Linked DNA regions of Homo sapiens: region 2 is linked to region 1. The links come from fine-mapping of genetic effects on gene expression. Tissue or cell type: whole blood. Region 1 holds a variant in brackets; the other region holds the start of a gene. All regions are shown on one strand. Distances are between the middles of the regions.

Region 1 (7,660 bases):
ATCAGTGTGATTATGTGTATCTCAACCAGAGTCAAAAGCAACTCTTGCCTAATAAAACCATCACAAGTCAGGAAATAAGGAAATATGAACAAATATGAAGAAAATGACTAATCATATTGAACCATTTCCTGAGAGAAACAGAAATTAGAAACCAAAGCCTTCTAAATGACCCCTGGTAAAATTACACAGGCAATTAGTATCAAGTGGCCTCTTCTAAGTGTGAAAGTTTTTCAGAGCTTCTAATAAATTTTACGGGATAGTTTGCAAAGTCTATGGCCCAATATACAGGCAACACTGTTGTGTGACTGTCCCATATCCAAGTTTTTCAAGATGAGCAATGGCTCAACCCTATACACATATTGAGGTGAGAAGGAAAACAAGTGCTTCCCTTTGGCCGTTCCCATTTTCCAACTTGTCTTTCTGAAGAAAATCTAGTAAGAACAATATCTAGTGGCTGAAAGGGTTTTGATTTAAATTATTTTACTCCTTTCTTAGAGTTTTTCTAGATATAGGTTTCTAAACAACACATTGACACTATAGCCCATTTTCTGCCTTTTCAAAGAAAACAGAGCATGACAGGGCAAGGAAGGGAAATTCCTCAAACAGTTCAGTGTTTTAAATGACTTTTAATGAGAGCCGCTTTTACCTTTTAAAACCCTACCTTTTATGTGTATGCTTTTTTTCTGGTTTAAATTTGATTTGCAAATTTTCTTTGCTTTGAATTTTCCCCTAGGATTTAAAGATGCTCTGTCCTTTGATTTGTCATTAACATTCCGTTGGTGCCTTGCAGCATTTTATACTGCAGACACACCTCTTTCCCATGGCTGAAAAGCTGTATGTGTCCCTACATTATACATACACTTGGAGCGCTAAGATGATACCCAGAGGTAGACAGTCTATAAATCCTAGAAGAAATTGTGCATACACTAAGATGGTATATTGGCAAGTCTGGATTCAGACTAGGATGAATCTAGAAAATAAGTATTTCATCTTTGAAATATTCCCACCCAACTTTCTTTCTTAAAGTACTGTACTCAAAATGGACAGTTCTCTTCAACCTGTATGGAAGCTGTTGTATTAAAGATTTCCAGATGTACTGGATATATCCAGCAATATTGGGAGCTATGCTAATTTCTTTTTTTTCTTTTCTTTTCTTTTTCTTTTTTTTTTTTTGAGACAGTCTTGCTCTGTTGCCCAGGTGCAATGGCACAATCTTCGCTCACTGCAACCTCTGCCTCATGGGTTCAAGCGATTCTCCTGCCTCAGCCTCCCTAGTAGCTGGGATTACAGGCTCCCATCACCACACCCAGCTAATTTTTGTATTTTTAGTAGAGACAGGGTTTCATCATGTTGGCCAGCTGGTCTCGCACTCCTGACCTCAGGTGATCCACCCACCTCGGCCTCCTAAAGTGCTGGGATTACAGGCGTGAGCCACCGTGCCTGGCCAAGCTGTGCTAATTTCTTGAGAACATAACCTGGAAAGGCTGAAAGTCCCTCAAAAAAGCCTCCTACTTGGCATGGTGCAGTGTTGAGAGTTGGGCAGGAGGGTAGTGATATTACCTGGCTAGGGACTGAAAGGAGTGACCGAGGGCAGTCTCACTGAGTGTTGCATGCCGCAGCATAGAGCTGAGAAAACACTTGACAATCATGAGCCCTACCAAGGGGCAAGAAAATGCTAAATGTTTTGTTGGCCCAATAGGTGTGACATAAAGACAGGGAGGCCTCCTGAGGGCCTCATCACCGGATGCAGTGATAAAGTTCAAGGGCAACAGTAGTGATGTCAGCACCCAGGCAACCAAACCAGACCAACCTCATCTCATAATTTTCAAGACCCAAATGAAATCTGTCCTGTGCAGTGGAAGTCAGTGGGGCCAAAGAAGAATACAAGCATTGTTGGAGTACTTTCTATGTGCCTAGAGCTGCTCTAGATGCTTTAATGAATTAAGCCATTCAAATCTTCACAACTGTTTAGAGTAGTTCAATTTTTATCCTCTATCTTACAGTGTGACAACTAAGGCCCTGAGATGAGAAGCATTTGGCCCAAGTTTATGCAGTGGCTCATGCCTGTAATCCCAGCACTTCAAGAGGCTAGGCAGGAGGATCCCTTGAGCCCAGGAGTATGAGGCCAGCCTGGGCAAGATAGCAAGACCTCGTCTCTACTAAACATAAAGAAAATTAGCAGGGTGTGATGGAGCGAGCCTGCAGCCCCAGCGTGAACCCAAAAGTATCTGAGACAGGTCTCAATTTAGAAAGCTTATTTTGCCAAGGTTAAGAATGCACTCATAACACAGCCTCAGGAGGTACTGAAGACACATGCCCAAGGTGTTCGGGTACAGCTTGCTTTTATACATTTTAGGGAGACATAACACATCAATTAATACATGTAAGATTTACATTGCTTCTATCTGGAAGGGCGGGACAATGTCAAGTTGGGGGTCTTCAGGTCATAGGTAGATTAAAAAATTTTCTAATTAGCAATTGGTTGAAAAAGTTATTATCAGTAGTAAGGAATGTCTGGCTCACAATAAGGGATTGTGGAGACCAAGATTTTATCATGCAGATGAAGCCTCCCAGGAGCAGGCTTCAAAGAGGGCAGACTATAAATGTTTCTTGTCACACTTAAGGTCTGTGTTGAAGTTAATGCTGGAGGGGTATAATGAGGCATATCCAACACCCTCTTCCATCACGGCCAGAATTAGATTTTCATGTTAACTCTGTAATGCCGTTGGCCAAGAGAAAGGGTCCATTCAGATGACTGAGGGGCCTTAGAAATTTTTGGTTTATACCAGCTACGCTGAGAGGTTGAGGAAAGAGGAGCACTTGAGCCTGGGAGATTGAGGCCGCAGTGAGCCGAGACTGTGCCACTGTACTCCAGCCTGGGCATCAGAGCAAGACCTTGTCTCAAAAAAAAAAGATTACACATTTGGTAAATTGCAGAACAGAGCTTTTTGCCCAAGTGGCTTATAATCATTACAGAAATTGCCATTGTGCCAGACCTTTCTCCTTCTCTGCCTCCAAGTTACAGAAGTTACAGAAGCTTCTCATTGCACCCATGTTTCTCAGGTGGCTCTCTGCTTTCAAATTGACTGAATACCGCCCAGGTGCAGTGGCTCACACCTGTAATCCCAGCACTTTGGGAGGCAGAGGTGGGTGGATCACCTGAGGTCAAGAGTTTGAGACCACCCTAGCCAACAGGGTGAAACCCCATCTCTACTAAAAGTACAAAAATTAGATGGGGGTGGTGGCACGCGCCTGTAGTCCCAGCTACTCTGGAGACTGAGGCAGGAGGATCGCTTGAACCCGGAAGGCAGAGGTTGCAGTGAGCCGAGATCGGCCACTGCATTCCAGCCTGGGTGACAGAGTGAGACTCCGTCTCAAAAAAAAAAAAAAAAAAAAAAGATTGAACATCTAAAACAGATTGTTTCACTGAAAGAGACTCTTTAAAAAAATTAGAGCTATATTGATATATAATTAACACCATAGAATTGAAGCAGCTACCTTGTCTGGGGTAAATACCTGGGGTTCATCATCTCGTGCCACGAAAATTAAGGACACGGACACACCTGAGGAGTTAAGGAGTAGAGGTTTAACAGGCAAAAGAAAGATAAAGGAAAATAGCTCTCTCTAGTGAGAGAGAAGGGACTTCTGAGAGGAAAGAACCAGCTGGTGGATGCGCCAGATTTTATAGTCAGGCTGGAGGAAGTGGTGTCGGATTTATATAGGGCTCACAGATTGGTTGAATCAGGTACTAGGTTTACATAGCTCAGGAGAAGGCTGGCCGCCCCACCCTAATCTTATTATGCAAATGAACTTTCCCCTTGTCCGGTGCCACTTTGTTTGCTCCTTCCTGTACACCTGGCTGGCCAAGAAGGGAAGATGGAGTCGCCATTTTGAACACAATTGACAACAACTGCCAGCTTGTATGTCTGCAGCTCGATTTTACAGGCTGCTCTTTGTTAGTAAGCAAAATGACTTGGGGCTGCTTTTCATTTAAAGGAAAACCTTACCGAGGTCTTCTATACCCTCACTATCTGTCTAAGTAATTTCTTTTCTTT[C/T]TTTTTTTTTTTTTTTGAGACGGAGTCTGGCTCTGTCGCCCAGGCTGGAGTGCAGTGGCGTGATCTTGGTTCACGGCAATCCCCGCCTCCCAGGTTCAAGCAATTCTCCTGCCTCAGTCTCCCGAGTAGCTGGGATTACAGACACATGCCACCATTCCCAACTAATTTTTGTATTTTTAGTAGAGACGGAGTTTCTCAAACTCCTGACCTAAGGTGATCTACTCTCCTCAGCCTCCCAAAGTGCTGGGACTTTACAGGCATTAGCCACTGCACCTGGCCCAGTAATTTCTTCTTAACTCCTATATCAGAATTTACCCATTTAGGCTGGGCACGGAGGCTCATGCCGGTAATCCCAGCACTTTGGGAGGCTGAGGCAGGTGGATTGCTTGAGCTCAGGAGTTTGAGACCAGCCTGGGCAACATGGCAAAACCCCATTACTACAAAAATAAAAAAAAAATTAGCTGGGCATGGTGGCATGACAGAGTGGGTGACAGAATGAAACCCTGTCTTAAAAAAAATTACCCATTTAAAGTGTACAGTTTTTTAAGTGTTTTTTTTTGTATATTTACCGAGTTGCACAACCGTCAACACCCCCAATCTTAGACCATTTCCATCACCCCATAAGGAAACGCCCCTGTCCATTAGCAGTCACTCCTCATTTCCCCCAACCTCCCCATCCCTAAGCAACTACTAACCTACTTTCTGACTCTATAGACTTGCCTGTGCTGGAAATTTCAAGTAAATAGAATCATGAAATGTGTATTTCTTTTGGTTGTGCATACAATAACAAGGTATATTTGGCAAGCCTGGATTCAGACCAGGATGAATCCAGAAAATAAGTATCTCATTTTTCACTGAAGTATTCCCACCCAACTCAGAAGAGGGGCTTCTTTCACTTCATGTAATGTTTTCCGGTTCATCCATGTTGAAGCTTATTATCAGTACTTCACTTCTTTTTATTGTTGTATAATAGTGTACTCTGTGAATAGCCCACATTTTATTTTTCCATTCATCTGTTAATGGACATTTCAGTTGTTTCTACTTTTGACTCCTATGAATATGCTGTTATGAACATTCATGTACAAGTCTGTATGTGGACATAAGTTTTCATTTTTGGGGGGTATATACAAAAGATACCTTTAAATCTAGAAATTTCTACTTATAGCTCTCACTGCCATATTACGCACTCTCTTGCACTCTCTCATTCCTTGCAGATGGTGTCCTTCTCCAGAATATTACTGATATTGGTCTCCAAAGTAATGAACTTCTTACAAATATATTTATTTTTCATGTTATAACTTTATTCAACAATAATTCAATAACATTTATTTTATTTATTCTAGTTTTGTACCAGCCACTACACTGGATGCAAGAGATATAAAATAAACTAGAGTGTCCCTGCCTTTAAGGAATTTACATCTAACTGGGGAAGTGGAGAGGGGTAGAAGAAAACATAGACAATTAGAATATTATTAATGTGTGTTGTAGCAGAAACAAATACTGTGCTTTAAGGCACACAGGAGGGACACTTATTCTGCAGAGTCAAGGAAGGTGTCGCAGAATGTGTGATGGAAACTGGGCTTTGCTGAGCAATAAAGAGGGAATGGGGACAGATGGGCATTCTAAGCAGAAGAATTAGTATGTGTGAATGTCCCGAGTCAGGAAGACCATGGCTGGACTTGGAACCATAAAAGTAGGAGCTGATGTAGAGTGCCCCACGTCTGGTGGTAGAGAGGTGGCAGGTGAGGTGGCAAACCAGGCAGCATTGACATCATAGTGGAACTCCTATGTCCTTCTAAGGGTTTGGACTGAGTTTGTAAATAATGTGCTTCCATTGAAAGATGTTTAACCTGGAGAACTGATTATTATTAGAGAGTTTAGAACAATATGAACTTTTGAATAAGTATCATAAGGAACTCCTGAAACATCTTTATTATTATATTTCATGATTAAGTGCTTGACAGCTGGAAAGCCTAGGGTTGGTGGTTGAAAGAACCTATCTACGCAGGAAGCAGATTTCACCCAGGTGGTGTTATTTTGTTGGTATTCCCCATTTAGTGGTTCATGGCTCAGTGTAGAACTCTTTGACTTTATTTTGTTGTTGCAGGGCATTACTCTGCCTTATGAAATGCATGACCCTATCATTACCTCTCCAAGGTTTTGGTATGTTCTGCATTAAGCTCTATAATACTACACAGAAATTAAAAATCACCCACTGAGTCTTCTTTGAAGATCCGTTTCAGCGTCCCTGAATACCTTCTTGTTTGCTTGGTTATGCTGTCAGCGCTTCTGTCAAACATGGAATTCCCAGATAGCCTCAAGTCCTTTGGGGGCAAAACTTTGTCTTGATCACAGGATCTTGTCACAGGATCTTGTCACAGGATCTTGCCAATTTTTACTTAGCTGGATTTCTGTCAAGAAACAAAGGGGCAGGGAGTGGGGGAGAGAGAGAGAGAAAGAGAGAACAATATGTGAGGAAAGTAGTCAGGGGGAATTGCAAATAGGAAGGTAAGAATATCATTCGTTGAGACAGAGGGTTATAGAAGTAATTCGGCATATCAACAGGAAAATAAATACATCTGTTTATAAATTTTACAGATATTTGGTGACAATAATCAAGATGAGCAGATTTACATTATTAACATATAATAACAAGTATAATTCACAAGTCCTCAAAACAATTGCAAAACTGCAAAGGACCCCAAAGGATCTTCCCACACACCCATGACATTTTCTAGTTTGTAGCATAGGCCCTACTTTCCTAGACACTTAACTAGAAAATTCTAGAACTTTTCTTATATACCATGTCTAATGTCACAATTATAACTATCCTCCATCCCTCCCATTCTTTTTTGGAGATGGTGTCTTGCTCTGTCACCTAGGCTGGAGTACAGTAGCACGATCTTGGCTCGCTGCAACCTCTGCCTCCTAGGTTCAACTGATTCTCCCACCTCAGCCTCCCAAGTAGCTGGGATTACAGGCTCCCGGCACCACGCCTGGCTAGTTTTTGTATTTTTAGTAGAGACATGGTTTCACCATGTTGGCCAGGCTGGTCTTGAACTGCCCGCCTTAGCCTTCCCAAGTGCTGGGATTACAGGCGTGAGCCACCGCGCCCAGCCTTATTCTTCCTTTCTTAATGACTAAGATCAATTCCTTCATTTCTTTTTAATAGTTATGGAGTAGAAGCGTCACTATAATTTATTTACCAAACCTCATATGAGTATTTAAGTAGCTAACAAGGACAGTGTTATTTCAGGAACAACAGAAAATTTTAAGTGTAAATGGATGAGTAATTGTTTAGTTTCAAATACAGGATGAAGAACAGACTATACTCTGAGAAATACTGATATATTGTTAAGTAAATTCTAACTCAGATGTATCACAGTGCTTAGATCTTTAAAACAGGACACTATATGCTGGGCATGGTGGCTCATGCTTGTAATCCCAGCACTTTGGGAGGTGGAGGTGGGAGGATGGCTTGAGCTCAGGAGTTTGAGACCAGCCTGGGGAACATAGTGAGAACTTGTCAATACAAATAAAATAAAATAAATAAATAAAACAACACTATGAGGCATAAAGGAAACATCTGACATATATGTATATAT
Region 2 (7,660 bases), 110 kb after region 1:
GAAGAATGAAAAGTTAGATGATAATCCAGTGAGCAAGGTTCTTGTGGAGACAGAAGGAAAATGACGCCCCAGAACAGGTATTTATTTGGAATTACCATCTTGTCTGTCTTTCAACCTCCTCTCCATGCTTCTGTATCCATCCTCCCCTATCCTTCTCCAAATGAATGAACTCTGATGGCTCCATTTCACTCATGGCACTCTCTGTTCCCCATCCTGTGTTTCTCCTGAGTCTAGCGTACCCCTCCCAGCTGCCTCATGCTACCATGCTGTGATTTTTGTTTACCACTGTGGGTAAAAACAAAACTCCAGTACACCTGGGGCCCCCTAAATCAGGATTGTCTTTCCCCTTTTAAAGAGAATAACTTTTGTTGTATTAGATAAAAACACCCTATTCTCTTTTGTAATATTCTAGAGCAACTAGTTCTCTTAGAATATTAGTATACTTAATACCTCCCATTTATAATTTTTTCTCAGTTGCACTCAAGGTCTTGAGTCCCCTGTCCTCACTGTGCAGGACCTGGCAGTGAATCCACCCCTTGGGATGTGGTGGGGGGTGGATTCTGTGACCGCAAATGGGAGTACGTTTCACCCATGGGTCAGAATGCTGTTACAGGGATGTGGTAAGAACAGATCTGCATTCAGCAGGACACACTGGCGAGCAGATGGAGCCAGCCAGAATAATTCAGGAGCAGGTGATACCCACATGTCCAGTGAAGCAGGTAGAACTACCTAGAAGTAGGTTCTCAGCCACTAGGCCCAGATATAGGATTTCATGTCTCTTCAAGGGAAACCGACAGGAGAAACGTTGGTGCCAACTTAGAGAAAAGGCCTTGAAGGCATGTCAGAGCTCAGGTATCAGGACTGGGGTCAACTGACATGACCAGACTCTGAATGAGGCCCATGCTCTGTCCTCCAGGATGAAAGTCTCCCAGCTCAGCTGAGCTCTGATTCCAGAGTCATCTCTGTGGTTGACCTGCAGGTGGGGATCAAATGGTTGCACTGTGGACAGAAAAGGGCTGACAGGGGGAAGTGGGGGAAGGCCAAGTACATTATGAAAAACCAGCGAGGCCAGGCACAGTGGCTCACGCCTGTAATCCCAGCACTTTGGGAGGCTGAGGAGGGCGGATCACTTGAGGTCAGGAGTTTGAGAACAGCCTGACCAACATGGTGAAACCCCGTCTCTACTAAAAATACAAAATTAGCCAGGCGTGGTGGCACATACCTGTAATCCCAGCTACTTGGGAGGCTGAGGCAGGAGAATTGCTTGAACCCAGGAAGCAGAGGTTGCTGTGAGCTGAGATCATGCCATTGCACTCCAGCCCGGGCAACAAGAGTGAAACTCTGTCTCAAAAAAAAAAAAAGAAAAAGAAAAACCAGCGAAGGCCCAGCTTGAGCAGCCAATGGCACAAGAAAATGGCACAAGGAGGCCACTGTAACTGACAGACACGCCTGCTCTGCCACTGGGACTGATCTTGTGTGGGGAGTTCTGATCAGCACCAGGCACTCTTTAGAAGCACCGTGTCCGGCTTCTGTCCTCTTCTACTGTCACGTGGCAGAAAATTCCTCTCTCATGCTATCCTGGGTAAAGTCCTTTCTTCAAAAAGATCTCCCTTCCATAGTCCTCCCATTAGAATCTTTTGCACTCTGTACAAAAAGACAAACATTCTGATGAGTCCATCAACATTAGGCAGAGTTGTTGGAGACCCAGGAAGATGGGCTACAGAAGTCTTTATGCACACACCGGGTGGTACTCACTGTCTCTCAGCACCAAGCTCACTTCTTGGTACTTCACTCTGTGGTGCCAGGGCTGGGACCTGCGTATTTCTCTCATTCTGTTTCCAGCTGACCTGACCGTGGGCAGCACCAGAAAAAGCCTGAGACTACCTTCTGTCTCCAGTCCCTGTCAGCGACTCTCCAGCGACAGGCAACGGCGCCAGCTCCAGACTCCAGCTGCTCTGGGCCTCCCAGAATCAGCCACACCATGCTTGTCAGAAGTCTCAGCAAGAATTTTGGAGAATATCTAGAGACCAATAAAGATGGAAGCAGAGAGGGCCTAAGGAGGTGCACGGCCAGCAAGTGCCCTCATGTGATCAATGAATTTTAGAATATTGGTACCTAACCTTCAACTGAATTATAACTATAAATCATAATTATAAAAGTAATATAGGCTTGCCATAAAATATCCAAGCAGTTTAAAACGGCTTCCTGTCAACCATGTAAATAGCCAAAGAAACTATGCTGTATATATTATTCACTAGTTTTATTTTTTCACTTAACAATGCATCCTTCTAATGTCTAAGTAGTATTCCCTGTTAAGAATATAACAATTATACTCTAATATTCTCCAATTGATGGACTTTAGGTTGTTTTGATTTTTAAATTATGATAAAAAAGGATGTCCTGTGACTTATGTACTTGTTCATGAGCACGTAATTCTGTAGGAGAGATTCCTAGAAGAGAAATTGACCAGACCCTGACAAATTGCCCCAAGCAGTGTTCTGTGAACCCTCCCGCCTATGGACTAGGGATGATTCTCCACATCCTCACAGAGTAGATGTTCTCAATCTTTAAAAATGCTCTCCAGTATGATTGGCAAATCAGGCCACCTCTGTATTTCACATTCCTTGCTTAACAACAAGGCTGAACATTGTTAATATATTCATTAGCCAATTGTGTTCCTTTTCCTATGGATTGCTTTTTTGTATCTTTGCTTATCTTTTCTGTTGGGGTGCTCATTTCTCTTACCAATTTGTAGAAATTCTCAGCTACATCAGGGATCTGAAGCCCTTGCTATATGTGTCACACATGTTTTTGGCTTGTCTTTATCTCCATGGCACATCTAGGAAGATGTGAGCAGCCACTGTGGCCCCGGTTTTGGGATGGAGAGACAGCTCTTCCAAGAGAGGGCAGCCAAGGTAAAGAAACACAGATGAGCCACGGAAAGAGGGCATCTGTCTTCAGTTACCTCTGCAGGGTAAGCAGTGATGCATTGAGGAAAAAGTATATGATTTGGAGATTAAAGGGCTACAGTTCATCCCCTGCTAACTATGTGACCTTGGAAAAATGGTCTAACCTCTCCAAGGCTCAGTTTCTTCTATAAAAGAGAGGAAGTAATGGTTACTTCATATAGGATTGTTGTGTGGAATAAACGAGTAAATTCATGTAAAGGACTTGCTTTGGGGCCTGGCATCCAATCAGTGTTTGAGCAATGAACAGTTTACGGTGTGAACCCAATAAAATCACATGCACAGATGCCTTCTGATGATTTAAAGGGCTATGAACACATAAGTAAGTAGCTGTTACTTTTACACACAATTATCCATGTCAGGTAATGTACTAGAAGTCTGTGAAACATTCAGCCACTCTCTTAGTTCTGAGTTTGGAGACTGGAATGCTCTCTGAGAGCGTCAGGTGCCCTCCCACATTCACTGATTGGTAAAGGGGAAGATGGGGGCTGGGAAGGGGGAGGCTCACTCAGGAGTCCAGACAGTGGTGGGGACAACCTGAGTGCTCAGTCGTAAAGAGGAAAGGCAGAATTTTTCCTTGCTATGGCTGGAACAAACGCACTTTTGATGCTGGAAAACTTCATAGATGGAAAATTTTTACCTTGTAGCTCATATATAGATTCTTACGACCCATCAACAGGGGAAGTGTATTGCAGAGTGCCAAATAGTGGAAAAGACGAGGTGAGTATATGCACTTAAAGAAGACTGAAATGTGTTTAATATGTTGGCCAATTATGGGTAACAGTTTTCTAAAAGCAGAGGGAGTTGGGGGAAGATGTAGGATTGTTAAACATGATAGAAGGAAGATTCTAGTTCTCAGAAGATGTACCTTGTAACTGGACTGTATGATACCTAGAACAAATCTCTTCCTATATGCAGAAAGTAAGTCATTTTTCTAGCCAACCTAACACAGCCCTGTGTGCAGTTTTTTTTTGCAATTCTCAAACATTTCCTAATCAGTGTCTAGTACAAAGTATTATTTGTAAGAGCTATCACTTTGTTAAATATTCCCTTTTCTCCACCACGCACTGCTTAAATTTACCACTATATCCATGGAATTAAAAAAAAAGTATAGCTTTACTAAAATAAACAAACAAGCAAAAAACTGTGGGCTTTGTTTTAGATTGTCTTCTCATAATTTGTCATGTCTTCAAAATACCTAGTAAAATAAAATCAATCATTTGAATGATGAAACTCAAAATCAAATTCCCATATATTTTTGGAGTTAGATTTAACAGCGTCTTTTTTCTTATCCAAAGTGTTTAATGGCATATGCATTACATTTTTTTGGTGATGTAGAATTAATTTTACTTGGAGAATTTTGTAAAATATTTGAGATATATTTGATTAGCTATCAATTATTGCACTGAGAATGTAAATATATCTGAAGTGGTAAATGTAGCTGATGTATATATAGTCATCTAATGCCTTATGAATTATAATTTATTCTTTTTAAGGCACAAATAACTAGATTATTTAAAATATAGTCTTCCTATAAAAATATATATTCCATGCAAAGTTTTTTTTTAAGAACATTGCTATTTTTTTTCTTTTTTGTTAATACTTCAAATCTGTCTTGCATTTAAAGTAAACCTTCAGACTTAGGGATTAATGTTTGCAAATGTTGGTTAATGCATTGGTTAAATTATAAACTGCAATTTTGTTTGCTTCAAATGACTTAACACAGCTCTGGGAAATCCAGCTTTGTGTTTTCCACTCTTCCTTGTTTGCCAAAGTGAAGTTAAAAATGACAAACATGCCAAATTCAGCTGAAATATTTCCTGCAGCTAATGGCTCATAACTTTTTAGAAAATAGAATGAGCTATGGATGCGCTAGCTAGTAGAGTAATAGATATGTTCAGTTTCTCAGCAATCCAACTTCCAAATATCCTATCTGATCCCATAAGTCATAGTTTTTTCCGGCTTGAAAAATATGGTTACCATACAAACTGCATGTCCAATTTCCAAAACATCACTCAGGAAAATGTTGCTGGTGCTGCTAACAGTGGCTCCCGTTTATTCAACTTTTGCTTTGTGCTTTGCAGTCATTAAGCCCTTTTTTAACAAAAAATTAAAAAATTGATACATAATAATTGTACATCTTTATGGGCATATGTGACATTTTGATACATGCATACAATGTGTCATGATCAAATCAGGGTAATTAGGATCTCCATCACATTAAACATTTATCATTTCTTGGTGTTGGGAACATTCCAAATCTTTTCTTCTAACTATTGTGAAATATACAATAAATTATTGTTAACTATTGTCACTCTACTAGAACTTATTCCTTTTAACCATATTTTTGTATTAATTAGCCAACCTCTATCCTCTCCTCTACCCTTCCCAGCCTCTGGTAACCATAATTGTACTCTCTACCTCCATGAGATCAACTTTTTTAAGCTTCCACATATGAGTGAGAACATGTAATATTTGTATTTTTGTGCCTTGCTTACTTCACTTAACGTAATATCCTCCAGCTCAAATCGTGTTGGTGCAAATGACAGGATTTTGTTCCTTTTTATGGCTGAATAATATTCCATTGTGTATATATACCATATTTTCTTTATCCATTCAGCTGTTGATGGACATTAGGTTGAGTCCATATCTTGACTATTGTAAATAGTGCTTCAACAAATATGGGGGTACAGGTATCTCTTCAGTATACTGATTTCCTTTTCTTTGGATAAATTTCCAGTAGTGGGATTGCTGGATCATACTGTTGTTCTATTTTTATTTTTTTTTTTTTGAGAAACCTACATGCGTTTTCCATAATGGCTGCACTAATTTACTTTCCCACCAACACTGTATTTGTCTTCCCTTTTTTTTTGCAGCTTCACCAGCCTTTTTTATTTCTTATTTTTTGATAATGACCATTTTAACTGGGATGAGATAATAACTCGTTGTGGTTTTGACTTGCATTTCCCTAATAATTAGTGATGTTAAGCATTTTTTATATACCTGTTGGCCATTTGTACATCTTCTTTTTGTGGAATATCTCTTTAGATCATTTGCCCGTTTTTAAATTGGATTTTTTGGGCGGTGGCTATTGAGTTGTATATGTATATATACAAGCTCAAGCTCCTTATATATTCTGGTTATTAATCCCTTGTCAGATGGATAGTTTGCAAATATTTTCTCCCATTCTGTAGGTTGCCTCTTAACTCTGCTGTTTCTTCTGTTGTGCAGAAGCTTTTTAGCTTGATATTATTTTATTTTGTTTATTTATTTTCTTTTGTTGCCTGTGCTTTTGAGGTCTTGCCCAAAAAAATCTTTGCCCAAATCAGTGTCATGAAGTATTTACCCTATGTTTTCTTATAGTAGTTTCATAGTTTTGGGTCTTACATCTATCTAAGTCTTTAATCTGTTTTGATTTGTTTTGGTGAGAGATAGGGGTCTAGTTTCATTCTTCTGCATATGGTTATCCAGTTTTCCCAGCACCATTTATTGGAGAGACTATGTTTTCACCAATGCATATTTTTGGCAGCTTTGTAAAAAACGAGTTGGCTGTAAATGCATGGATTTATTTCTGGATTCTCTATTCTGTTTCACTGGTCTATGTGTCTGTTTTTACACCAGTGCCATGCTACTTTGGTTACTATAGCTTTGTAGTATATTTTAAAGTCTGGTAGTGTGCAATCAGTAAGCCCTTTAATATAGATTATCCAAAGAAGCGAGTTGTAACAACTTAGAAGTCTCTATTATGATCCTTATTTTACAGAGGACAGTACTAACACTCTCATCTCTGATGCTTAGATCCATGGGCATGTGCACCTGTGCGTGCACGCACACATGCGCACCTGTGCGCGCGCGCACACATGCGCACCTGTGTGCATAGCACATTTGCATTATAGCATTGCAGTTATAAGCACATACTAGAGTCAGACTGCCTGGTTCAAATACAAGCTGCACCACTTGGTATCTATGGCTTTGACTTAGAGCTGAACTTTTGCATGCCTCAGTCTCCTCATCTATAAAATGAGGATAATAATGATATCTACTTTATAGTGTTATTCTGAGGATTAAACTGACTAATATGCTTAAAGCCCTTAGTGCTTGGCATATAGTAAATGCTTTCTATGTATTAACTTATGCTAATATTATTGTATGTAGTACATTAATATGTATTCTATATTACATGGACATAAGTTGTGCTATAAGGCAACTTAGAAAATATGAGTGGACTTGAATTTTCTGAATAGCAAAAAGACCAGATTTTTACATTGACTGTAGGAATTCATGCTCCTCTTGCTGGCTGGCAGTGGGGCTTCCTCATGGCTGCAGCTGGTGGTGGAGGTCACCAAAGCCATCTCTTCCCCTATCCTGTCTGCAGGTCCACATTCAAGATTTAGTTTTTGAGGTGAAGCCACCATATTTCTAGAAATTTCTAATTAAGATGAGAATCATTTTATACCTTACTTCAGCTCAGCTAAAAGTGACTGTATTAGTTCGTTCTAACACTGCTATAAAGATAATACCTGAGACTGGGTAATTTATTAAGGAAAGAGGTTTAATTGACTCAGTCCTGCATGGCTGGGGAGGCCTCAGGAAACTTACAATCATGGCTGAAGAGGAAGCAGGCATGTCTGGCGGCAGGCGAGACAGCGTGTGAAGGCCAAGAAAAACTACCATTTATAAAACCATTAGATCTC

Evidence for each region. PIP is the estimated chance that this variant, and not a neighbour inherited with it, causes the effect.
Region 2: it holds the start of ALDH8A1, and the variant in region 1 is fine-mapped to the expression of ALDH8A1 in whole blood (INTERVAL, PIP above 0.99).

Annotation. Positions count from the first base shown.
Region 1 is chr6:135,059,021-135,066,680 of GRCh38, reverse strand. LOC124901405 (a long non-coding RNA gene) reads right to left here. Exons shown (of 2, transcript XR_007059775.1): 2 at 5,335-6,466. Among named protein-coding and RNA genes, the nearest start is that of HBS1L, 8.0 kb to the right of the region's middle. The variant C/T (reference allele first, on the strand shown) is at 4,056.
Region 2 is chr6:134,945,942-134,953,601 of GRCh38, reverse strand. It overlaps ALDH8A1 (aldehyde dehydrogenase 8 family member A1), which reads left to right and starts at 3,501. Exons shown (of 7, transcript NM_022568.4): 1 at 3,501-3,686. The coding sequence starts at 3,549.